Linked DNA regions of Homo sapiens. The protein of the gene in region 1 purifies or fractionates together with the protein of each later gene. This does not show direct contact. Each region holds a gene or a part of one and is shown in the gene's direction. Other genes may lie near its edges.

Evidence for each region.
Region 2: the proteins of LIMS1 (region 1) and MYH4 purify together in Homo sapiens (affinity purification with mass spectrometry; 2 studies listed by BioGRID and IntAct, with this or other methods). This does not show direct contact.
Region 3: the proteins of LIMS1 (region 1) and PA2G4 fractionate together in Homo sapiens (co-fractionation; one large-scale study listed by BioGRID). This does not show direct contact.
Region 4: the proteins of LIMS1 (region 1) and TYMS purify together in Homo sapiens (affinity purification with mass spectrometry; 3 studies listed by BioGRID and IntAct, with this or other methods). This does not show direct contact.
Region 5: the proteins of LIMS1 (region 1) and BMP2K purify together in Homo sapiens (affinity purification with mass spectrometry; 2 studies listed by BioGRID and IntAct, with this or other methods). This does not show direct contact.
Region 6: the proteins of LIMS1 (region 1) and REPS1 purify together in Homo sapiens (affinity purification with mass spectrometry, with the first as the bait; one large-scale study listed by BioGRID). This does not show direct contact.
Region 7: the proteins of LIMS1 (region 1) and MYH7 purify together in Homo sapiens (affinity purification with mass spectrometry; 2 studies listed by BioGRID and IntAct, with this or other methods). This does not show direct contact.

Annotation. Positions count from the first base shown.
Region 1 is NC_000002.12:108,673,970-108,677,469, forward strand, and holds part of LIMS1 (LIM and senescent cell antigen-like-containing domain protein 1), read left to right. Parts: intron 1-1,908; coding exon 1,909-2,059; intron 2,060-2,636; coding exon 2,637-2,729; intron 2,730-2,825; exon of another isoform or gene 2,826-2,961; intron 2,962-3,344; exon of another isoform or gene 3,345-3,500. UniProt on the Homo sapiens protein: Within the IPP (ILK-PINCH-PARVIN) complex, binds to F-actin, promoting F-actin bundling, a process required to generate force for actin cytoskeleton reorganization and subsequent dynamic cell adhesion events such as cell spreading and migration.
Region 2 is NC_000017.11:10,459,560-10,463,059, reverse strand, and holds part of MYH4 (myosin-4), read left to right. Parts: intron 1-91; coding exon 92-195; intron 196-2,005; coding exon 2,006-2,144; intron 2,145-2,738; coding exon 2,739-2,857; intron 2,858-2,958; coding exon 2,959-3,108; intron 3,109-3,500. UniProt on the Homo sapiens protein: Muscle contraction.
Region 3 is NC_000012.12:56,107,559-56,110,984, forward strand, and holds part of PA2G4 (proliferation-associated protein 2G4), read left to right. Parts: coding exon 1-55; intron 56-1,671; coding exon 1,672-1,735; intron 1,736-2,298; coding exon 2,299-2,377; intron 2,378-2,840; coding exon 2,841-2,919; intron 2,920-3,000; coding exon 3,001-3,134; intron 3,135-3,405; coding exon 3,406-3,426. UniProt on the Homo sapiens protein: May play a role in a ERBB3-regulated signal transduction pathway. Seems be involved in growth regulation. Acts a corepressor of the androgen receptor (AR) and is regulated by the ERBB3 ligand neuregulin-1/heregulin (HRG).
Region 4 is NC_000018.10:660,653-664,152, forward strand, and holds part of TYMS (thymidylate synthase), read left to right. Parts: intron 1-1,493; coding exon 1,494-1,668; intron 1,669-2,333; exon of another isoform or gene 2,334-2,353; coding exon of another isoform or gene 2,354-3,500. Other genes in the region: ENOSF1 (mitochondrial enolase superfamily member 1), read right to left, coding at 2,354-3,500. UniProt on the Homo sapiens protein: Catalyzes the reductive methylation of 2'-deoxyuridine 5'-monophosphate (dUMP) to thymidine 5'-monophosphate (dTMP), using the cosubstrate, 5,10- methylenetetrahydrofolate (CH2H4folate) as a 1-carbon donor and reductant and contributes to the de novo mitochondrial thymidylate biosynthesis pathway.
Region 5 is NC_000004.12:78,912,350-78,914,607, forward strand, and holds part of BMP2K (BMP-2-inducible protein kinase), read left to right. Parts: 3' UTR 1-2,258. UniProt on the Homo sapiens protein: May be involved in osteoblast differentiation.
Region 6 is NC_000006.12:138,981,754-138,985,253, reverse strand, and holds part of REPS1 (ralBP1-associated Eps domain-containing protein 1), read left to right. Parts: intron 1-3,500. UniProt on the Homo sapiens protein: May coordinate the cellular actions of activated EGF receptors and Ral-GTPases.
Region 7 is NC_000014.9:23,432,861-23,436,922, reverse strand, and holds the start of MYH7 (myosin-7), read left to right. Parts: upstream 1-1,262; 5' UTR 1,263-1,303; intron 1,304-2,673; 5' UTR 2,674-2,729; intron 2,730-3,182; 5' UTR 3,183-3,190; coding exon 3,191-3,391; intron 3,392-3,695; coding exon 3,696-3,839; intron 3,840-4,062. UniProt on the Homo sapiens protein: Myosins are actin-based motor molecules with ATPase activity essential for muscle contraction. Forms regular bipolar thick filaments that, together with actin thin filaments, constitute the fundamental contractile unit of skeletal and cardiac muscle.

The DNA of each region.
Region 1 (3,500 bases):
GTTATGATAAATTGTTGGGCTATGAATTTTTCTCAGTTTGCTGCCTAGTATAAAAATTTAGTGGATAAAGATTCTTGGCCGGGCGTGGTGGCTCACACCTGTAATCCCAGCACTTTGGGAGGCCGAGGCGGGCAGATCACGAGGTCAGGAGATCAAGACCATCCTGGCTAACACGGTGAAACCCCGTCTCTACTAAAAAATACAAAAAAAATTAGCCGGGCACGGTGGCGGGTGCCTATAGTCCCAGCTACTTGGAAGGCTGAGGCAGGAGAATGGCAGGAACCCGGAAGGCGGAGGTTGCAGTGAGCTGAGATCGCACCACTGCACTCGAACCTGGGAGACAGAGCGTGACTCCATCTCAAAAAATAAAAATAAAAAAATATTCTTTACTGTAGTTAATGTGAACTTACTTGCTAAATTATAGTAGGGATGGAGAAGAAACAGTAAGCCAAATACTAAGAAAACAGTTTGGGCCAGGTGCAGTGGCACACGCCTGTAATCCCAGCACTTTGGGAGGCCGAGGCGGGTGGATCACGAGGTCAGGAGATCGAGACCATCCTGGCTAACATGGTGAAACCCCATCTCTACTAAGAATAAAAAAATTAGCCAGGCGTGGTGGTGGGTGCCTGTAGTCCCAGCTACTCGGGAGGCTGAGGCAGGAGAATGGCATGAACCTGGGAGGTGGAGCTTGCAGTGAGTGTGGATCGCGCCACTGCACTCCAGCCTGGGCAGCAAAGCAAGACTCGTCTCAAAAAAAAAAAAAAAAAAAGAGAAAGAAAGAAAACAGTTTGGTTGTATAAGTTCAGCCATCTCATCTTTTGTGATTGAATTATCAGTTTGTGCCTTATCTCGTTTTCTTGCCTGTCCTTCCTCTTGGGGATTCACCTCTGTCCACTTTTCATTAGCATCTCTCCTAGAGAATTACATAAAAGGGATGAAATTCAAACAAGTCCGTTTGACTAATTGGGACCATCTCTGACCAAATGTTTATTGATGCAGGAGACTGAAAATAATATTTAATTTGAGTATTTGGAGAAGGAAAATTCTGGGCATTTTGTTGTTTATGAAAATAAACCTATTAACCTATAACTATTTTCAACAGCTTGTGACAATTTAAATAATTGTTAGTAAATGGAACTAGTCTCCCAACTTCTCAGTTTGCTTGGAAAGGTCGTGTGTTAGTCTATTTTATGCGCCTGTAACAGAATACCACAAACTGGGTAATTTGTAACCAACAGAAGTTTATTTGGCTCATGGTTCTGGAGGCTGGGAAGTCCAAGATCAAGGGGCTGGCATCTGGTGAGGACCTTCTTCTGCATCATTACATAGCAGAGGGCATCACATGGTGGGGGAAGAGGAGGGGGGAAGGAAGAGAAGGAAGGAGGCTGAACTCGTCCTTTTATAAGGAACCCACCCCCTCAGTAACAGCGTTAATCCATCTGTGAGGGCAGAGCCTTCATGATGTAATCACCCCTTAGAGGTCCTACCTCTCAACACCTCAGAATTGGGGATCATGAACTTTGGGGACACAGTCACACCATAGCAGATAGTATTACTGAGTCTACCCTCAGCACTGTGATTATTCCCTGTAGCTTTTAGAGGAAGACAAATGGACTAAAATGTAATGTGATAATATAAGAAGGAAATTATGAATATGACTGGTGTGGTGGTATGTATCTGACCTAGTCTTGCATCTTATCCTTTTAAGATACAGATGTTTTGGTAGGAGTCTGAAACCTGTTCAGGCCTATTAATTCAGGTTATTCTGATCACCTCTAAAGGGGAAAAAAGAAATTTGCAGGGATTGTCATAGTAATGTCTTTAAAAACCTTCTAAAAAGTGTGCTAGCCCCATTGGTTGGCCACTTTTCTCTCTTAGTATTAAGCTGTGTGTCTTTCTCACGGACAGGAAGGAGCTGACTGCCGATGCACGGGAGCTGAAAGGGGAGCTATACTGCCTCCCATGCCATGATAAAATGGGGGTCCCCATCTGTGGTGCTTGCCGACGGCCCATCGAAGGGCGCGTGGTGAACGCTATGGGCAAGCAGTGGCATGTGGAGGTGAGTTCTAAATGGCAAAGGGTAACCAATCCTTTCAAATCTCCATGATTAAGGGGTAACCAATACTTTCAGATCTCCCATGATTCAGGGGTAACCAGTACTTTCAAATCTTCATGATTCAGGTGTCCTGGCAAGATTAGGAGACTCTAAAGATTAAACGTGGACATTTTAAAGACAATTGACTTTGCTGACAGCTAAGAATATATAATGTACACTGCTTTTGTGAATGTCTCAGTAATGATACAGGATGTGTACTTTTGCTCCTAAAGCCTTCTTGAAGCAGGAAGTGCCATGGTCTGTATCCAGCAGCAGCTCCTCCTTTATAGGTGCTACTGAGATGCTCACCTCTATTCTCTTTTTGGGCTATTATAATAGGCTATGTCTTAAAGTAACCTTCAAAGACAGACACCTGAATTACAACTGCAGAAGTATTATATTATGGGGCCACCTATGGCCAAATGAAATGACTGTCTCAAACTTTCCTTCATCTTCTCTGAAAATAGGTTAACTCTGGTATTTACTTTATTAGATATAAAATATGGCAATTCAAAAATGACCTATAGCAATTTTTTTTCAGCATTTTGTTTGTGCCAAGTGTGAGAAACCCTTTCTTGGACATCGCCATTATGAGAGGAAAGGCCTGGCATATTGTGAAACTCACTATAACCAGGTATTGACCTTAGTCACTGGATGCTAGATAGACTTTTATGAACCTAAGCTTATCAGTAGTTTAGCTACAAGGAAATCTCTTGGAAGATGTACATTGTTCAGTAGAGATTTGTTTTTAACTTTTTATTTGGGAAATAATTTCAGACTCAGAAGCTAACTATAAAATATACAAAGAATACCTGTATGTCTTTCATTCAAGTCCACAGTTTGCTTTATCATTTCCCAAGCTCAGTCTTCCTGTGTAAAACACATAGTTACGTAAATATTATATACAAGTACGATGGCTGTTTTGCCAATAAGTTCATCATACTCCTTTATCCCTAAATACTTCAGTGTATATTTCCCAAGAATATGGGACTCTCTAACATAATTGTAGTTATCAATATTGATACCGTACTCTAACCATTTATTCCAGTTTTGTCACTTGAGTCAATATCCTCACAGCATTTTTTCCACTCCCAGACTGGACCCAGCCTCTGGCTGTGATGTTTCTTTAGCCTTCTTAAATCTGGAACGTTTCCAGAGTCTTTTAAAATTTTTGATGACATTGACATTTTGGAGGGATGCAGAGGGCCCCTAACCCCTTTTTAATAGACTACTTTCCACTTGGGTTCACCTGGTGCTTCTCTGTGCTTAGATGAGGTTATACACAGCAGGTTGTGGCCTCATACAGTGGCAGGGCATCTTCTCAGAACCTTGCCCCTGGAGCATTTTATACCTCTCCTGCCCTGGTGATCTCCCAGGCATGGTGCTGGCTGATAACATCACTGTG
Region 2 (3,500 bases), on another chromosome or scaffold:
AAGAATAACAGCCCTTCTAAGAAGCCTCTCTGAAATGTTTTTGATGACCAAAGCAATGCTGTCTATATACTGTTCTTTTCCATGTGTTCAGAAATGCTTCTGATCACCACCAACCCATATGACTTCGCATTTGTCAGCCAAGGGGAAATTACTGTGCCCAGCATTGATGACCAGGAAGAGCTGATGGCCACAGATGTAAGTAATAGGTACAAAGTAGTAAAAAGTAAATTCATTTTCCAGTGTACAACACTCTCCTCTATTAGGGTGGAAAGCAGTGGCAGAAAGACTATAAATAGGTAATACAACCCTTTGGGCTTTCTTACTTTTGGAAAAAAATTGTAGGATATTTCAATACCCTCCCCCTACATGTGTTAAAAAGCTTTCACTGCCTGTAATAAATGTTGGGTCTTTAGTATTCCTTAGCTAGTAGGCTCCTTTCATTCTATCTTTCTTATTAGTCATTTTTGGTTGATATTTATGCTCCAATATTAATGTTTCTCTGCTATTTTATGCCACACCTCACACCCAAGATTCTGGGAAGGAGCTGCAATATTATTACAACTAAACATGGAACTCCCACTGTTCTTCTACAGTCACATGTAAACATAAGCCTTATTTTGAATAAACCTCTGTGGGCCAATGATATATCCCTCTCTACTCCCTAAGCAGCATTAGAAGAAGTGGGTTGTCTACTTCAAAAACACTCATTTTGGGGACTCCATAAGCCTTTATATTTATTTTTGAAACAACGCACTCTCTCCCCACCATCACCTCTTTTTTAAGGATTATTGCTTTTTGGCTTACTTTCTTTATATGTAAACTTTATGTATATTTCATGCTTTCTTTTGATTTCTGAATAATCTTCCTTATTTTTAACTTTAATATCAGTGGGACTATCCCAATACCCCCAAGTTAGAGTTGACAGTGCTTGCAAAACTGCTTTTTCTATTAAAATATTATTTTCAAGAAGTCAATAATTCATTTGTGTGGCTTTATATTATAAATATCAGCTTTAACTCTCTATAACTTATTATTATCTTTGTATGTCCAAAAGTGATAGGGAGTTAAGAAACACACCCTGGTCTGCGAGGTTAAAAAAATGTAGCAGTCTTGCTCTAAGACTTCCGTAATAATGTCTAGTTTCTGTAAATAGGTAGAGTTAGTGAGCTGGAAGTGGAAGTCAATAATCTGGGGAAAGAGTCTTAGGTAAGAATGGTAAATAAACATATTTTCCTCTGCCTGCTCTGAATCCTGCCCCCATTTATAAGCCTTTTCAAAGCCTATGTGGGCAACTAAAAAGGTAATCAAAATTCGATAGAGAAAAAAGACACAGAAATATTATACTAAATGGCAAAATTCCTTCTTTTCATAAATGTCTCTTCTCTGCATGAGAAATAAATAACTAGGTAAAGTTTGCTACCCCAGGCATCTCGTGGTCGCTGAGCTGTGGCTTGCTATCAGAGAGGCATGTGGAGAAAGACTCACAACCATTGCTGTTCTCCTCATACCCTCTTTCCAACTTTATCACTCATGCCCATTAGCAGGGGAAGGTAGACTGGGATTATGCATTAGGATAGGACAAATAGGAGAAGAAGGAGCAACAGAGAGACTCGTGAGACTGGAGAAAAGAAACAAAAATAGCCAAAAGACCAAGAGGAGCATGTGCCTGAGAAGCAAAGGGGGGCTGGGGTGGAGAAAAGGGGCAAAGCACTGGCCTTGGCATCAAAAGTCATGGCTCTTAGTCCTGGTTCAGTGAGTGTGGACAAGTCACATCATATGCTGTGACCAAATGGACTCATGACTCAAATGGAAAGACTGATGCATACCTCTTCGTGTTGCCATGTGGATCAAAAGGTAAAGCATATGAGTACCTTTTGAAGATGGCAAAGTGCTAGTCAAATATAAGGCAAGGCGTGATGAGAAAAAAGTGGGAGACAGCCCCGGTGTTCTGAGGGATTCTTCCATGGTGCTAATTGGGGATGAGCAAATTCAACTCTTTTGACAGAGTGCTGTGGACATCCTGGGTTTCACTGCTGATGAAAAGGTGGCCATTTACAAGCTCACTGGAGCCGTGATGCATTATGGGAACATGAAATTCAAGCAAAAGCAAAGGGAAGAGCAGGCAGAGCCAGATGGCACGGAAGGTACCACCCCCTGTTGGTATCTTCCACTTGACAAAGCTGACATAGTGAACTTTTCAGAGGCAGGGACCGTGTTTTTACTTTCTCTGACCTAGCTCGTGAAGGGCAAAAGTATTACGAGAAGGAAATTACACACTGCCTGACGTTTTACATTATTTAGCAGATTTGTGATTTCTGCTCATTCCATTATTCATTGGCTTTTCATAAGCTCATATTTGCTATTTGACTAAAACATATTTTATTTCAGGATAATCTGTGTGCCCACAGGCACTGAAAGAAACAGAGATCTGAATATTTCTGTCACTACTCCTCTAGGTTAGGGTTTCTCAAATTATTTTTATCTGTGGTCTACTTTTGCCAGGTTAAATATCACAGACAGCATCGATTCCCCAACCTCCAATTTATCATCACAAGAAATGACTAAAATTAGTGCAAGTGGTGGCAATGCTTTTGAGGCAATATGAACAAATGAAAAGGTTTCAATGACATTTGCACATCTTACTTTTTGAGTGAAACCTTTTTTCTTTGTCATCATCATTTACATTTTAAATTGTGTAAGCCATGGTCAGTTTCACCATTCTCACCTTGTTCACACAGTTGCTGACAAAGCTGCTTATCTGACAAGTCTGAACTCTGCTGACCTGCTCAAATCTCTCTGCTATCCCAGAGTCAAGGTCGGCAATGAGTTCGTAACCAAAGGCCAGACTGTGCAGCAGGTAAACATGACTTAAATTGTCTGATTTATTTGAACCGCAAGTGACTCAGGAGTTCATCACTGTTTTCAATTTAAAAAACTAAACTATCACTTCTGTTGAAGGTGTACAATGCAGTGGGTGCTCTGGCCAAAGCCATCTACGAGAAGATGTTCCTGTGGATGGTCACCCGCATCAACCAGCAGCTGGACACCAAGCAGCCCAGGCAGTACTTCATCGGGGTCTTGGACATTGCTGGCTTTGAGATCTTTGATGTGAGTAGTGAACTGACAGAAAATTAGCCAGTGCAAATCCTCTTGTTAGAGCATACAAAATCACATTTACAAAATGTACCTTACAAAATATACAAATGTAATTCCTACTGAAAGGAGTCTTTGAAAAGATATGAAAAGTAAATAGGTATAAATAGGAAAAGAGAAAATTCTATTCTTTTGAGTCTAGAAGTCTCAAAAGTTGATCCCTGAGAGGTTAAAATAGTCAAAATCTATCCTGGATCCAAGCAGATGAGCATGAGAACACCTTTTTAAAATTACTCTAAGGAAATATTTCAGAGTCCTCATTTAACAGTATTTTGCCTAGTATGCATGATCTCATGCAGTTACTTGGAAAATAAGTATTCAAAGAATCAATTCTACTTTGTTTAGAA
Region 3 (3,426 bases), on another chromosome or scaffold:
GGCAGCTCACCTTTGTGCTGAAGCTGCCCTACGCCTGGTCAAACCTGGAAATCAGGTAAGCTATTTTATCCAATTCCAAAGCTCGTTTGAACCAAAGATGCATTAGGCACCTATAGCTACTCTATATGAAACTACCAACCTCCCCTACAGACCCCTTATAAAACAGCTTTTTAAAATTAGCTATATTTAGCTGGGCACAGTGACTCACATCTGTAATCCCATCACTTTGGGGGGCCAAGGTAGGAGGATAGCTTGAGGCTGGGAGTTCAAGACCAGCCTGGGAAACATGGTGAAACCCCATTTCTACAAAAAATACAAAAATTAGCTGGGCGTGGTAACATGTGCCTGTATTCCCAGCTTCCAGGGAGGCTGAGGTGGGAGAATCACCTGAGCCTGGGAGATTGAGGCTGTGCTGAGCTATGATCATGCCACTGCACTCCAGCCTGGGCAACAATGAAACCCTGTCTCACAAAAGAAAAAGGAAAAATAAGCATTTGCTGTCCCCACAAAACAGATTAGAATGCCAGGTAAAAAAGGATAAACACTGGACTTAATATTATAGGCATGTGGTGGCACATGCCTGTAATCCCAGCACTTTGGGAGGCCAAGGTGGGAGGATTGCTTGAACCCAGGCATTTGAGACCAGCTTGGGAAACATAGCGAGACCCGTCTACAAAAAGAAAAAAGAAAACCCAGGTTTATGACCAAGTTCTTTCACTTAACACTCATTTAACCTGGGGCAAATCATTTAACCTGAGACTCAGTTTCCTTGTCTTCTAGATTGGGATATACATCTGCCCTGTTCACATGCAAAATTTATTGAGTTAGACCATCTTTGTGAAAGCACTGGGTAAAATGATATGCAGTTACAGCTGGTCCTCAGCTTGATGCTACATTCAGTAGAAGCTATACTTTGAGTACCCATACAACCATTCTGTTTTTCATTTTCCATATAGTATTTAGTAAATTACATGAGATATTCAACACTAATATAAAATAGGCATGTGTTAGATAATTCTGCCCAACTGTAGGATAATGTTTTTTAAGTGCTCTGAGCACATTTAACATAGGCTAGGCTGTGATGTTAGGTAGGTTAGGGGTATTAAATGCATTTTTGACTTAGTGATATTTTCAACTTATGAGTTTTTTGGAGATGTAACCCCATTGCAAGTTGGGGAGCATCTGTATAAAGTATTTTTAGATTGTAGGGATAATCAAGCTATGAAATGAAAAACCAGTGAATGACAATCATTGGGGCTTGATGGAGGATATTAGAACGCTCAGTTCTGCCAGGTGCAATGGCTCATGCCTGTAATCCCAGCACTTTGGGAGGCTGAGGTGGGCAGATCACGAGGTCAGGAGATCGAGACCATCCTGGCCAACATGGTGAAACCCCGTCTCTTCTAAAAATACAAAAATTAGCTGGGCGTGGTGTTGCGTGCCTGTAATCCCAGCTACTCAGGAGGCTGAGGCAGGAGAATAGCTTGAACCCGGGAGGCAGAGATTGCAGTGAGCCAAGATCACGCCACTGCACTCCAGCCTGGTGACAAAGCCAGACTCCATCTCAAAAAAAAAAAAAAAAACGCTCAGTTCTTTTATGCTTCTTATTCTCATTGTAGAGAACTTATTAGCTCCTGATATCTCACCTTTCATTTGATGTTGTACTTCTAGAACACACAAGTGACAGAAGCCTGGAACAAAGTTGCCCACTCATTTAACTGCACGCCAATAGAAGGTGAGAACAGATAACAGGGTTGAGGGTCTAAGAATGAGTGGCTTTGCCAGGTGCGGTGGCTCACGCCTGTAATCCCAGAACTTTGGGAGGCTGAGGTGGGCGGATCACCTGAGGTCAGGAGTTTGAGACTAGCCTGGCCAACATGGTGAAACCCCGTCTCTACTAAAAATATAAAAATTAGCTGGGCGTGGTGGTGGGTGCCTGTAATCCCAGCTACTTGGGAGGCTAAGGCGAGATAATCGCTTGAACCCGGGAGGAGGAGGTTGCAGTGAGCCAAGATTGCGCCACTGCACTCCAGTCTGGGCAATAAGAGCGAAACTCCATCTCCTCCATCTCAAAAAAAAAAAAAAAAAGAATGAGTGGCTTTGCAGAATTGAGGCTTTTGCTCCCTTGAAGATCTATCCTGGCTATAACCCAGTCTAAGCCAGAAATCTCAGAGCCCTGTGTTTCCATAACCAGGTAGTTGTCTCACTGCCTACCACTTCAAACTACTGAAGTGGGTGGATTTGGAAACCTTTTGGGATACTGGATAGCTTGTTCCATAGGTTGTGTACTATCTACAGGTATGCTGTCACACCAGTTGAAGCAGCATGTCATCGATGGAGAAAAAACCATTATCCAGAATCCCACAGACCAGCAGAAGTAGGTGCCAACCCTACTTATTACCTTCTACCACACAAGACTAGTCATCAGGTTTTTTTCTATACTCCCAACTGAATCTTGTCCGCCCTCTACTCCATGTTTTCAGGAGTGACCTGTTGCTCTTAATATTCCCTTTCTCTAGGCCGGGCGCGGTGGCTCACGCCTGTAATCCCAGCACTTTGGGAGGCTGAGGCGGGTGGATCACCTGAGGTCACGAGTTCAGAACCAGCCTAACCAACATGGCGAAACCCTGTCTCTACTAAAAACTACAAAAATGAGCCAGGCCTGGTGGTTTGTGCCTATAGTCCCAGCTACTTGGGAGGCTGAGGCAGGAGAGTTGCTTGGACCCGGGAGGTGGAGGTTGCAGTGAGCTGAGATTGTGCCACTGCACTCCAGCCTGGGTGACAGAATGAGACTCTGTGTCAAAAAAAAAAAAAAATTCCTTTCTCTCTATTCCTTTTAGGAAGGACCATGAAAAAGCTGAATTTGAGGTACATGAAGTATATGCTGTGGATGTTCTCGTCAGCTCAGGAGAGGGCAAGGTGAGGAGAGTACCAGAGTTGGCAAAGAGGGGTGACTGAGAGTGTTCACCAGACCAAATGTTACTTAAATTACTCTTTCAGGCCAAGGATGCAGGACAGAGAACCACTATTTACAAACGAGACCCCTCTAAACAGTATGGACTGAAAATGAAAACTTCACGTGCCTTCTTCAGTGAGGTGGAAAGGCGTTTTGATGCCATGCCGTTTACTTTAAGGTACTAAGCAATGATAGTACTTGGAACCAGTCTGACTCACAGACCATACACCCAGGAACACTTTTTCCTCTCCCTTCCTGCCTAGACTTGTAGCGTGCATGTGCTCACTCCCTCCCTCTCTCTCCCCATCTCCTTCTCATTGAAGGTAATGTAAAAGAGCAATCCTAAGCATGATTTCTGCCTGAGGGTAGGAGCTATTTTAAAATATGAGCAAAATGGTAAGACTTGATGGGGAGTTAAAGATACCTCTGAATATCATCTTCCCTGCCAGAGCATTTGAAGATGAGAAGAA
Region 4 (3,500 bases), on another chromosome or scaffold:
CAGAGGGCTGAGTAGGTACCTCAGGCCGGGGCCAGAGTGCTGTGAAGACAGGCAGCAGCCCAGACCAAGCTTCTCTGTGTTCCGTGTCCTGGTCTAGAACCAGCGATGTTCTTTCTGACCAGTGCTTTTTGGAAGGTGGCTGAGGTCTGGGCTCAGGTCTGGGCCATACTAGAAGCTGGGATCCCTTCTATAGAGCACTTGGTATGGCTTGTATGGTCTTGGGGCAAGCCAGACCCAAGCCCTCTTATCCCATTTTAGAAAGGGCTTCAATTTGGATCCAGCCCCAGGTCTGCCTTAGCTCTGTATTCTTGGGGTATTTTGTTCTGTATTGGCCTATCTTGACTAACAATGAACCTTGGATTTGAAACATATCATCAGAAACCTCAGAAGACAACATTCTTAAACTGGCTAGAGCCTGGTCTGAATGGATGAAAAGGAGAGACTTTTGAAGCAATATGTAAAAGATTGAGAAATGATTTGTTGGAAATTTCTCAATTGGAGAAATTTCTTTGATTTGTTGGAAATTTCTTTGATTCTTTCTCAATCAAAGAAAATCGGGACAAACTCAACAATAGAAAGGGAGGAAGCAAGATACTCAGAAATAAAATGCATTCCCCTGTTTCAACTTAATGCTTCAATTCAGGATTCTAAGGAATCCTTGCCAGGAATGTCAGACTCACCTTGATAGTTGGAGTTACTCCATTGGTGACTCGATCAAATACAGGAGTTGAGGCACCTGCACTGTAAAATACTGATTAGTCTGATCATTAGGAATATCCTGTATGCCAGGTAGAAGATACATTGAACAGATTGCATGTAGGCATTAAATTCATTTTGGGGTATTACATATAGACAACACATTTCATTAAGAAACATAAAACTGTCAGATCGGTGGAATACTTAAAAGCACTTGGAGGTGTTTAGCCTAAAAAGCTTAGTTGAGGGGAATGGAAGAAAAGATCTGGGAGGGTGGTTCCAAAGAAGGGATCAGACTGTCCTAAAGCCCTCAGGAATCTGGGCTGGGACCAGCCTACTTAAAGATAGGATGGGCAGCTGGGTGTGGTGGCTCACGCCTGTAATCCCAGCACTTCGGGAGGCCGAAGTGGGCGGATCACCTGAGGTCAGGAGTTCGAGGCCAGCCTGACCAACATGGAGAAACACTGTCTCTACTAAAAATACAAAATTAGCTGGGTGTAGTGGCGCATGCCTGTAATCCCAGCTACTCGGGAGGCTGAGGCAGGGGAATCGCTTGAACCTGGGAGGTGGAGGGTGCCGTGAGCCACGATCGCGCCATTGCACTCCAGCCTGGGCAACAAGAGCGAAACTCTCAAAAAACAAAAAAAAGGATGGGTTCCATATGGGTGGTGTCAAGTGCCCACCTCCTAGCAAGTCAGCAGGGGCCAGAGGCCCTTGTAAGTGGTGTCTCGGGGGGATCAACTGAGATGGCTTAGGATTTACCTGGATGCCTGCTCTGCTCTCCCCATCTCTTCCAGGGATCCACAAATGCTAAAGAGCTGTCTTCCAAGGGAGTGAAAATCTGGGATGCCAATGGATCCCGAGACTTTTTGGACAGCCTGGGATTCTCCACCAGAGAAGAAGGGGACTTGGGCCCAGTTTATGGCTTCCAGTGGAGGCATTTTGGGGCAGAATACAGAGATATGGAATCAGGTGAGGAGATAGAACAATGCCTTCCATTTCCCGGGTGCCCTTCCTAGCATGTGTTTGCTCCGTTGTTTTAGATAAGGTCTGGGGGATGAGTCAATGTCACAGGAGCTGATGTATAGCTTTGACCTTGTGAGGGGTGGTGCCAGGTTAAGCCACAATTAAGCCTCATGAAGGCCGTTTCACACTCTTTTTTTTTTTTTTTTTTAATTATTATACTTTAAGTTTTAGGGTACATGTGCACAATGTGCAGGTTAGTTACATATGTATACATGTGCCATGCTGGTGCGCTGCACCCACTAACTCATGATCTAGCATCAGGTATATCTCCCAATGCTATCCCTCCCCCCTCCTCCCACCCCACAACAGTCCCCAGAGTGTGATGTTCCCCTTCCTGTGTCCATATGTTCTCGTTGTTCAATTCCCACCTATGAGTGAGAATATGCAGTGTTTGGTTTTTTGTTCTTGCGATAGTTTACTGAGAATGATGATTTCCAATTTCATCCACGTCCCTACAAAGGACATGAACTCATCATTTTTTATGGCTGCATAGTATTCCATGGTGTATATGTGCCACATTTTCTTAATCCAGTCTATCATTGTTGGACATTTGGGTTGGTTCCAAGTCTTTGCTATTGTGAATAGTGCCACAATAAACATACGTGTGCATGTGTCTTTATAGCAGCATGATTTAATAGTCCTTTGGGTATATACCCAGTAATGGGAGGGCTGGGTCAAATGGTATTTCTAGTTCTAGATCCCTGAGGAATCGCCACACTGACTTCCACAATGGTTGAACTAGTTTACAGTCCCACCAACAGTATAAAAGTGTTCCTATTTCTCCACATCCTCTCCAGCACCTGTTGTTTCCTGACTTTTTAATGATTGCCATTCTAACTGGTGTGAGATGGTGTCTCATTGTGGTTTTGATTTGCATTTCTCTGATGGCCAGTGATGGTGAGCATTTTTTCATGTGTTTTTTGGCTGCATAAATGTCTTCTTTTGAGAAGTGTCTGTTCATGTCCTTCGCCCACTTTTTGATGGGGTTGTTTGTTTTTTTCTTATAAATTTGTTTGAGTTCATTGTAGATTCTGGATATTAGCTCTTTGTCAGATGAGTAGGTTGCAAAAATTTTCTCCCATTTTGTGGGTTGCCTGTTCACTCTGATGGTAGTTTCTTTTGCTGTGCAGAAGCTCTTTAGTTTAATTAGATCCCATTTGTCAATTTTGTCTTTTGTTGCCATTGCTTTTGGTGTTTTAGACATGAAGTCCTTGCCCATGCCTATGTCCTGAATGGTAATGCCTAGGTTTTCTTCTAGGGTTTTTATGGTTTTAGGTCTAACGTTTAAGTCTTTAATCCATCTTGAATTGATTTTTGTATAAGGTGTAAGGAAGGGATCCAGTTTCAGCTTTTTACATATGGCTAGCCAGTTTTCCCAGCACCATTTATTAAATAGGGAATCCTTTCCCCATTGCTTGTTTTTCTCAGGTTTGTCAAAGATCAGATAGTTGTAGATATGCGGTGTTATTTCTGAGGGCTCTGTTCTGTTCCATTGATCTATATGTCTGTTTTGGTACCAGTACCATACTGTTTTGGTTACTGTAGCCTTGTAGTATAGTTTGAAGTCAGGTAGTGTGATGTCTCCAGCTTTGTTCTTTTGGCTTAGGATTGACTTGGCGATGTGGGCTCTTTTTTGGTTCCATATGAACTTTAAAGTAGTTTTTTCCAATTCTGTGAAGAAAGTCATTGGTAGCTTGATGGGGATGGCATTGAATCTATAAATTACCTTGGGCAGTATGGCCATTTTCACGATATTGATTCTTCCTACCCATGAGCAT
Region 5 (2,258 bases), on another chromosome or scaffold:
AAGGGACAGTGAAACTGTTATTTTTGATATCAGAATGTCATTTTTATGTGCATATCCCTAAAATTAGGGTTATTTCTACATACACTAGTTACACTTGTGAATTTTTTTTAAGGTCTCTTTTAATTTCCAGACAGTTAAAAACAATCTAGTTATCTTAAAGCATTAGAAAGTTATTATCTGGAGAGTGCAGAGATTTCAGTCCATACACCTTTCTCCACAAAGCAGAGCCAGAAGTAACTGACTATTGTGCCTAAAACTCTGTTTCATTTTTAAAAACAAGTGCCATTAAAATGGAATATCTAATGATAAGCATATGAAATAATGTGTAATTAGCTCAATTTAACTATTCCACAACTTACATATTCCAAAACAATGTTATACATGATAAATATATATAATTTTTGTCAGTTAAAACAAATTAAAAAAATGGACTATCGTCGCACAGAAGCCTAGAACAAAAATATGAAGAGAAATATCTGACATTTGTAAAGAAATTATAAGAAGAAAAAAAGATACAGAACAGAAAACATTCACTACTTTAGAAACACTTTATGCATGGCTTCTTGCCCCAAACTTTTATTGTGATGGCCCTAATAAAGCAGATTATTGGAAAAATTGGAGGACAAGGGTTGTATAAAAATTTTATTTTATGAAGAAAATATGTAGCGGAAACTGAATTTTCAAGACATTTACAATGTGAAATCATGTTGCATTTAACAATGTACTTTATTAGCAACTTCACCAAATATTCCCCAAGTCATAAGCAACAATTATTTTTATTAGGTTTTGGGGGGTGGAGTAGTTTTAATAAAGTGCACAGAATGGTGACACCCACAAAGCCTTATATAAAGGCAGGATTCATGCATCCTGCTGCAAGTACCTCTGCACTAATATACCAGATCCTAAAATGCATATAAGGTGGACTAGCATCTTAATTCTGCTAGTTGATTGTGTCTTTACTGAAAAGAACCCAGCTACCAATTTGCCTTTTTTTACACCACAAATCCTAATTAGAAACTTGAGGTTTTATAGAAATCATTTAATGATAGAGATTACATATGTGAATTAATGTGAATATAGTATCTGTGCTTCCTGTGTCTATGACTATTTTAAGATATAATTGTGCTGCGCTATCAGATTAACATTTGGAAGTTTCTAGAACAGTTAATGCTATTTACAGAAAGGAGTAGAAACTCATCAACTGGCACTCTCTTTGATTTTTATATTTTAAATTAACTCTCTTCGATCTCAAAGTATATTTTACGAGTAATTTTATTAGGAATCTCTTATAGTGCCCCAATGGGATAAGCTATTTGCCTATTTTCACAGTTCTGAACTTGGAAAGAAGCAAAGTATATGTAACTAAACCACATATTTGTCTTTTTATTGCTTTTTCCCTTCTTTTATATGCTAAATCAAATATAGATTTGTGGATAGGGAAGCAATATGTGAATCACAATGTAGCAGAGGCAGACCAAGCATTACATTATTATTTAGAGCTGGACTGCACCAATTACTTGTCCTCGTGCCAAAGGCAAATATGTTTGCACCTTTTTTTTTTTTTCTGATTCTCAGGTTGATTAATACTGCTAATGCAAATGCTCAAGTAGATGTTTAAAAACTTTACAAAATAGATTCAAGTGATACTTTCTTTTAAAAGTGAAGAGTTGATGATTACACATAGTAAATTCATGAACTACAGTAGGTTTGTATCAAACAATTTTTTTTAATGAAAATCTGTTGAGGTGTACACAATATGCTTCTTGATTGTATTAGTCCTTGGTCTCTGCTAGACCTCATGAGTTTCATCATTTAGAAAAGGGGTAGAGGATGAACTAATGTCTCCTTCAGATGTAAACATGAAATACCTAGAGTTTTACTTGCTTTTCAATACACTGAATAATTTTAAATGATTCTGACACTGATGTAGACCCTTTGACTTATAAATTCTGAGGAAACAACTGACAGCATAAAATATTTACATTCTTATAACACAGCACAGTGACTTTCTTCTTTCAAGATTGTAGCTCAGAGAAAAGATACAGGATTCAATTGGGGGTTCAATAGGATAGAAATGGAGAGATTCCTTTGTGTTGTAGTAGAGGCATTTTCCTAAGGAGTATAGATTTATACTTTGCATTTTCATTCATCATCCCCCAGAATCATGGTCAAGGTGTAGGTCACTCCACACAGCTGATGCTCAGGTTATTCCCTTGTGAGAATTATGAGAATAAAGCTCCCAAGATATGTGAAAGTGC
Region 6 (3,500 bases), on another chromosome or scaffold:
TTAATTCAGATGGACTTTAAATTAGGGTGGAGTGAGGGGAATGGAATTATGAGGGCTTCCAGGCAGAGAAAAGTGATCAGAAGTGGAAAGTGTAGGAGCCTTTTCAAGGACTAGTGTTTTCGGGATAACAGAATATAAAATTAGAAAGAGGCCATATTGGGAAAGACTCTGAAGAAGGGCAGCAGATAACGATATTTCAGCAAGCAATGGAGACCCATTGAAAAGTTTTTGACTTTGAGTGGCAGAAAGGGTAAGGAATGACACTCTTTCAGTGGTCTGGATTGGGTGCTAGGTCATGGACATCCAACCAGGGTGACAGCAGTAGAATAGAAAGGGAGAGACTGGATATGTTATTGAAGGACTGCTGGGTAGCCACTATATGAGGTGCTTTGTGGAATAATGTTTAATTGAGGCCAGATTATCAAGGTTGGATGGAGAGCTTTGAACTAATTGTGTAGGTAACAGGGAGTGGTAGATTTAAGAGAAATGACTCATAAAGCAGTGCTTTAGGAGTCGTTTGTCAGGGCCACAGGAATTAGAGGAATAAAACTGTAGACTTAACTTGGGGGCTGATTTTGTATGGCAGATACGAAGTGAGAAACTGGGCCAGTGGTACTCAAACATGGGAATGAAGGTGACAATGGGGAAGAGGCATTTGGCAGTGTCTAGAGACATTTTGATTGTCATAACTAGAGGGGAGAGAGCAGTTCTACTGGCATCTAGTGGGTAGAGGCCAGAAATGTTGCTAAACATCCTGCAGTGCACAGGACAGCCTCCACAAGCATTATGTGCCCAAGATGTCAATAGTGCTGAGACTGAGAAACCCTAACCTGGACTATAGTGGTGGGAGTGGGACAAAAAATCAGATATGGGCCGGGCACAGTGGCTCATGCCTGTAATCCCAGCACTTTGGGAGGCTGAGGCAGGTGGATCACCTGAGGTCAGGAGTTGGAGACCAACCTGGCCAACATGGTGAAACCCTTTCTGTACTAAAAATACAAAATTAGCCGCATGTGGTGGCGCATGCCTGTAATCCCAGCTACTCCAGAGGCTGAGGCAGGAGAATCACTTAGAACCTGGGAGGAGGAGGAGGTTGCAGTGAGCCAAGATCGCGCCACTGCACTCCAGCCTAGATGACAGAGCAAGACGCTGTCTCAAAAAAAAAAAAAAAAAAAGAGAGAGAGAGAGATGGTAGAGATTATGAAGGTAAACGTGATAGGCCTGGGTTATTTGGCAGTGTTTTGGTGAGAATACAGTGGGGCAAGGATTATTCTTTGGACACCACTCACAGTTAGAAAAGGGGCAGGAAGAGGGCTTACTTTTTAAAAGAGACAATGATGAGTTTGGTTTCAGACATTCTTAGATGGCAATTCAGATCTCTTGGAGACAGTGGGAAGTGGGTGGAGATTTGTCCACCCCAACTGCTGGTTCTTACAGCAGTTCAGGTTCAGAGGTTCGGGATTTCTTCCTCTGTTTTGCTCACCTAAGTGTTTAGGGACGGGAGACAGTGTCACATAGACTGGGCATGCACATACATATCAGGACCTTGGTTGGTACAGTAGTTTTCGGTGTTTGTTAGTAAAAGTTAGGAGGAGACTGAGTCATCTGGGGGCATGAGTGTAGAGAACAAATAACACCGAGTCCAGAACCAAACGAGGAAGGAGCTGGCATTTATCGAGTGCCTATTATGTTCCTTTAACCAGGCAAATCATTTTCATGGAAGAACTCATTTGATTCTTGCAACAACCTTGTGAAGTGGGTGTTATTCTTGTTTATTTTTATTTTTATTTTTATTTTTTGAGACAGTCTCTCGCTCTGTTGCCCAGGCTGGAGTGCAGTGGTGCAATCTCGGCTCACTGCAACCTCCACCTCCCAGGCTCAAGCGATTCTTCTGCCTCAGCCTCCTGGGTAGCTGGGACTACAGGCATGCGCCACCACCACACTCGGCTAATTTTTGTATTTTTAGTAGAGTCGGGGTTTCACCATATTGGCCAGGCTGGTCTTGAACTCCTGACCTTGTGATCTGCCCACTTCAGCCTCCCAGAGTGCTGGGATTACAGGCTTATTCTTGTTCACTAAGAACTTGATAGCAGATAAGTTAAATAATTTATTTGTGAATATTCGTATCTCTCCCTTACTATTATTCACGTCCCAGCTCTTACCTTCTCTGGTCATGTGGTTTGGGAGCAGGGTGAGGAATAAAATTCAGTTGGTCTGATTTTGACTTCCCCATAGTTCTTATGAACAGTAGGGATTTTAGAATATCTGATTTTGTGTTACGTATCAACTTACTCCTTTGCGTAGTAAGTAGTTTAATGTATGATGATGTCTTGAAACACAGCCACTTCAGAGAAAGAGGGAGATTCTTGTAGTTGGTGTTCAGGGCACACACAAATACAATTTTTCTTTATTACCACTGTCAGATGTTTTAAGGTGTGTTCATTACAGTTGCTTTTGAATAGCAGAGGAAAATCTATTCTGAGTTTAAGAGTTTGTTTTTGAAGACAGAATGTCAATAGACAAAGTGAAGGAGTGCATGCTTTGTAAAATTATGCTCCATGCCACATAATAGCAAGATGAGGGGGAGAAAAATCTGGCTCATAGGATTTAATCATGAGGAATTTTGCTGTCTGCCGAGCAAGAAAATATTCAGTGTTGTGGCTTAAAAGTCAGCTTTTCCCAAAGTAGTTTATTTTGTTTTTTAAAGATTAGGAAAGATATACTATTTACCACACTAATCAGAATGTTTTCTTAGCTTTTACCAAAAGCTTCTGTTTTGGGAAATGTCTTAAAACTTCATACAGACTTTGAATGCATAATAGATTGATAAAGGGTTCTAGTACTAACTGTTCTTTCATTGAGGTTTGTAAGCAATGTACCCTGTTAATGAAGCTGAAAATCTTTAGATCATTTGTGTAGAGCAATATCTTGTTAGAATATTTGCATAACACATAAATTTAATGGGGAAAAGCAATAACAGTGAAACAAACCATTTTGTTTTTGTCTTGAAACTTGTTTAAATCAATTACAAGATCTGGCATTAGTGATAAGTTTAAAAATAGGAAAGCAGAGCTCATTTCTGTGTTGAAAGTTATAAACTTAATAAGTCTCAGGTTTGTTATTCTGGAGTAGTGGTTTTTAGTTCTGAATCACTAAAATAATTGTAATAAACTACAGAAATAATCTTGCCATAATCACTTACCTATACACAGTTGAAAAAGATACTGTTTGTGAAAGAAGTCACAGTCAATGTGTTTCTGTAGTGTCCTATTTATTTACTTTTAAAATTTCTGTCTTCTTGAGTTTCTTGTGCTAGTTTCAGTCATTTTGTTTGTTTGTTTGTTTGTTTTAATCAATAGCCCAGAGTTAGAGTTTTAGTATATTGGGAATTCGTGCCAAACATTTGATGGAGCGACACAAGAGCATGAGAAGCTGGTATAAAGAGCACTAACTGTGGGAGGCAAGTTCCAGTTCTGGCATCAGCTAACTTTGTAACCCTG
Region 7 (4,062 bases), on another chromosome or scaffold:
CATGCCCCGTTGCTAGAAGAGCATGGCATCGGTTGTGTTCTGTGCTCGTAGGCTGGGCCCCAGCTCCCTTTCCTCCCCTCCTTTGTGGCTGTTCCTCAGGCCTGCAGAGGGGAAGATTTTTCCTGTCCTGTTACTCTGCCTCACTTGCCAGAACACTAGTCGCCTCCAGCTCTGGATAAAGCTGAGGCTGGGTGGGCCAGACAACAGCTGTCTTAGGGGTCTCCTTCCAGCTCCAAGTAGTTGTATTATCTATAGCTCTGAGAGGGTCTGTCTCTGGGCTCAGGCCTTTAGTACCTGTGGGGCAGAGCCAGGAACGTGAGTCAGGCAAACCGCTCCAAACTAGGACCAATGCAGCTGGGTCCTGCTCTCTGCGCATAGGGGGTCCCCACATCTTTGGAATCCCAGCCCACCTTTCCAGGCTACCCTCCACAGGCCGGGCTCCACTCCCATCTGCTGAGGTTTCCCACCTTGAATCCTGCTGCCCCGATTAGCTGTATAACCTTAAAGAATGCACTGTCCCTCTCCATTAAATGAAGTGCTTGGATGGATTGCTAAAGGCCTGTCTGGCTCGGAGGCTTGGTGACCTCAACACATTGCCTGCTGGTCCAAGGAAATCAGTGCCTGAGCCAGAGTCCCCATCTCTAAGCTCCATGGTTATTGTTCTTGCCACCTGGCTAGGAAATGTCCTTCCAGCTGCCCCAGTCTAGCTGCCTCACCCTGGGGCCATGCCCCCAACTCTGTCCTACCCTTCTCTGCTGCTGACACTCAGCCCCTTCCCAGCTTCCAGTTGGATACAGGACCTGGGCCAGGAGAGCAGGGAGGACACTGTGGAAATGCGGCCAGGCCATCAGGGGCCTCGCAGCAGGGGACTGGAGGGGGAGCAGTGTCCAGGGCCAGAAGTGCCCTGCGGGAGAGCCAGGACATTGGCTGCCTGTGGTCTTGGTGGTCGTGGTCAGTTCCCTCTCCTGCCAGCTGTGGAATGTGAGGCCTGGCCTGGGAGATATTTTTGCTGCACTTTGAGCCACCCCGCCCCCTGGAACTCAGACCCTGCACAGTCCATGCCATAACAATGACGACCACTTCCAATTGTTTCCTAGCTGGAGAGGCGGGGAGGGGAGCACTGTTTGGGAAGGGGGGGAGCCTGGGGGAAATGCTTCTAGTGACAACAGCCCTTTCTAAATCCGGCTAGGGACTGGGTGCCGTTGGGGGTGGGGGTGCCCTGCTGCCCCATATATACAGCCCCTGAGACCAGGTCTGGCTCCACAGCTCTGTCCTGCTCTGTGTCTTTCCCTGCTGCTCTCAGGTAGGAGCGGGAGCTGGAGGCTTTACTCTGGGATAAGGGGGCTCCAGGCTTAGGAAGGGATTCCTCTTGGAATAGCAAGCTTCATGCAGGACTTCATGCAGAGTACCAGGTCCAGTCACTGGGCACACATGTGCAGGTCTAAACATGGGCGTATGTGCCACAGGAGTTCCTAGGGGAAGATATCTGCATCTGAGCATATGGGACCAATATGCATTACAGGGTGTGTGTGTGTGTGTGTGTGTGTGTGTGTGTGTGGACAAGCCTGCATAGTCTGAATGTGAGAAAGGGTATGTACCTCACTGACTGATACAGAAATATCAAGTGGGAGATGTGGGTGTATGATCACGTCTGTGAACGAGGAGGTTCCTTTGCAGGGAGGGAGAAAGAATGGTGGAGAAGGATTCTAGGAAGTGTGTATGCCTTCATGTGATTCTGTGAGGCCTGGAATGTGTAGCTACCCCTGTCCATGCATGCAGAGGTTCTTGTCTATGCCTCCACGAGTCATGACTGTTATAGTATCTGTACCCTCTGCAGAAGGAACTCACAGGCACGGGGGTGTAGGATGTTCCAGGTCTTTGTGTACTGAAGAACACGCAGTGATGTGATCTACTTACGTGGCACACATCCTGAAATGTGCACATTTGCTGTTGAGGCATATATGGCACCCTGGGGTTGGGGTGCGGATTGAGGTATGGGAAGGAAGCCTGTCTTCATGTGAGAGGCATGCCCAAGCAGCAGGCATGAGTGTTCATCAGAGGGCTTGTGGAGGGTGTTTGGCTATGTGATGGGTGTGTCTGTGAGAGGAAGCCCACAGTGTCTTCTCTCTGAGAATGTCCACAAAGTCTGACAACAAAATGGGGACAGGATGGAAAAGAAGTCTCTTTAGAGTCATCAGACTTGCATTCAAGTCTTGGCTCTCCCACTTGTTGTCATGGGCTCTTGGCCAAGCAAGCCATTTAACCTCGATTTCCTCATCTGTCAAATGGGGTGAAGACTGAGTAGGAGAAAGTGCATTGAAGTGCTTTTAGACTGGAAAGTGCCGAACAAATGTGACCATTAGTTGTCTCTCAGATGGCTCAAAGAAAGGTACCACTAGATGGGTACAGGCAGGGGTGGGACCATCTCGCAGGAGTGAAGAGGATTAGGGTTCAGGTTGAGTTGACACCAGGAAGCTGTTAGAACTAGTTCTTGAGGAAAAAGGGAATAGGGTTTGAAAAACAAGAAGGATGGGACCAGAGAAGCTGACCACCCTTTCCACCTTGTTTTGGAAGAGGGTGGATGCTGAAGAACAGAGCCAGGGAGAAGCAGGAAGGTGGGACTGGTCAGGTTGGGCACAGCCTGCCCTGACACAGCCTCTTCCCTCTCTCCAGGTCCCCTGCAGGCCTTGGCCCCTTTCCTCATCTGTAGACACACTTGAGTAGCCCAGGTAAGAAAAGCTGAAGCTAGAGTGTTGAAAATCTAGTAAGACTGGGCATTAGAGCCCCAAAGCCAGCCTATGGAACTCTAGTTTCTGCCATGTGCTGGAGAGAATATCTTGGCTATCAAGAGCTACTTACCTGTGACCAGGGGGTCCAGGGATAGATGAGGGTCAGAGATGGAAATAGTTAGATTTCTGCTCCTACAGGGAGCTCAGAATGCTCTTCCTTCCCCTAGGAGAGCCCCAGCTTGAACAATAGTTAGTTGTTCCTTTTACCCTGGCAGGTTTGCTAGGCTGCTCCTCTGGTTAAGGGGTAACCTCAAAGAGGAAGGGACTCACTGGTAACTCCTCTTGACTCTTGAGCATGGTGCTAGGTTTTGGGGCTCCCACTGAAGGGGAGAGCCCAGGGAGGGAAGGGAAGAATGGGCAGATGGGAGGGCAGCCAGCTTCTGCTCACTCCAGGCACAGCCATGGGAGATTCGGAGATGGCAGTCTTTGGGGCTGCCGCCCCCTACCTGCGCAAGTCAGAGAAGGAGCGGCTAGAAGCGCAGACCAGGCCTTTTGACCTCAAGAAGGATGTCTTCGTGCCTGATGACAAACAGGAGTTTGTCAAGGCCAAGATCGTGTCTCGAGAGGGTGGCAAAGTCACTGCCGAGACCGAGTATGGCAAGGTGGGTGTCAGGCTGATGTGAGAGTCCACCCTGGCCACCTGTACACCTGGGTGGACAGAGAGGGGTACACCCATGCCCCATGCCCATGCAGACCTGAGGATGGTCCCATTCTCCTTCCCTTTGGGGAAGAATCCAGACCCTCCAAAGAGCCCTCTCCTTCCCAATATCCCTTCTGTCTTCCCTGTGAGATCCTGGTTCCTTCTCTCTTGAGCACTATTGCCCTGTCACTCACCAACTCCTAACCCTCTTGAGGAAGGAGGGAAAGCCCAGGCTGACAGGAGGGCTTGGGTGGGGGCTCTTGCAGACAGTGACCGTGAAGGAGGACCAGGTGATGCAGCAGAACCCACCCAAGTTCGACAAAATCGAGGACATGGCCATGCTGACCTTCCTGCATGAGCCCGCGGTGCTCTACAACCTCAAGGATCGCTACGGCTCCTGGATGATCTACGTGAGTGCTGCACCTGGCCCTACGTTGGGATCTCTGTTCTTGCTCCATCCATGTCCACCCCAGGAGCCAAGAGTGTCTTCTGTTTGTGTCTAGGCAGGGTTACACTCTAACCTCGTCCCAACATCCTTGGTTCAATTCCAACACTCTGGGGACTGGCATTACTCAGATTGAGTGCATGCAGAGGTTTTCCTTTCTCTTCTTTCTCTCCTGGGATCTTTCTCTA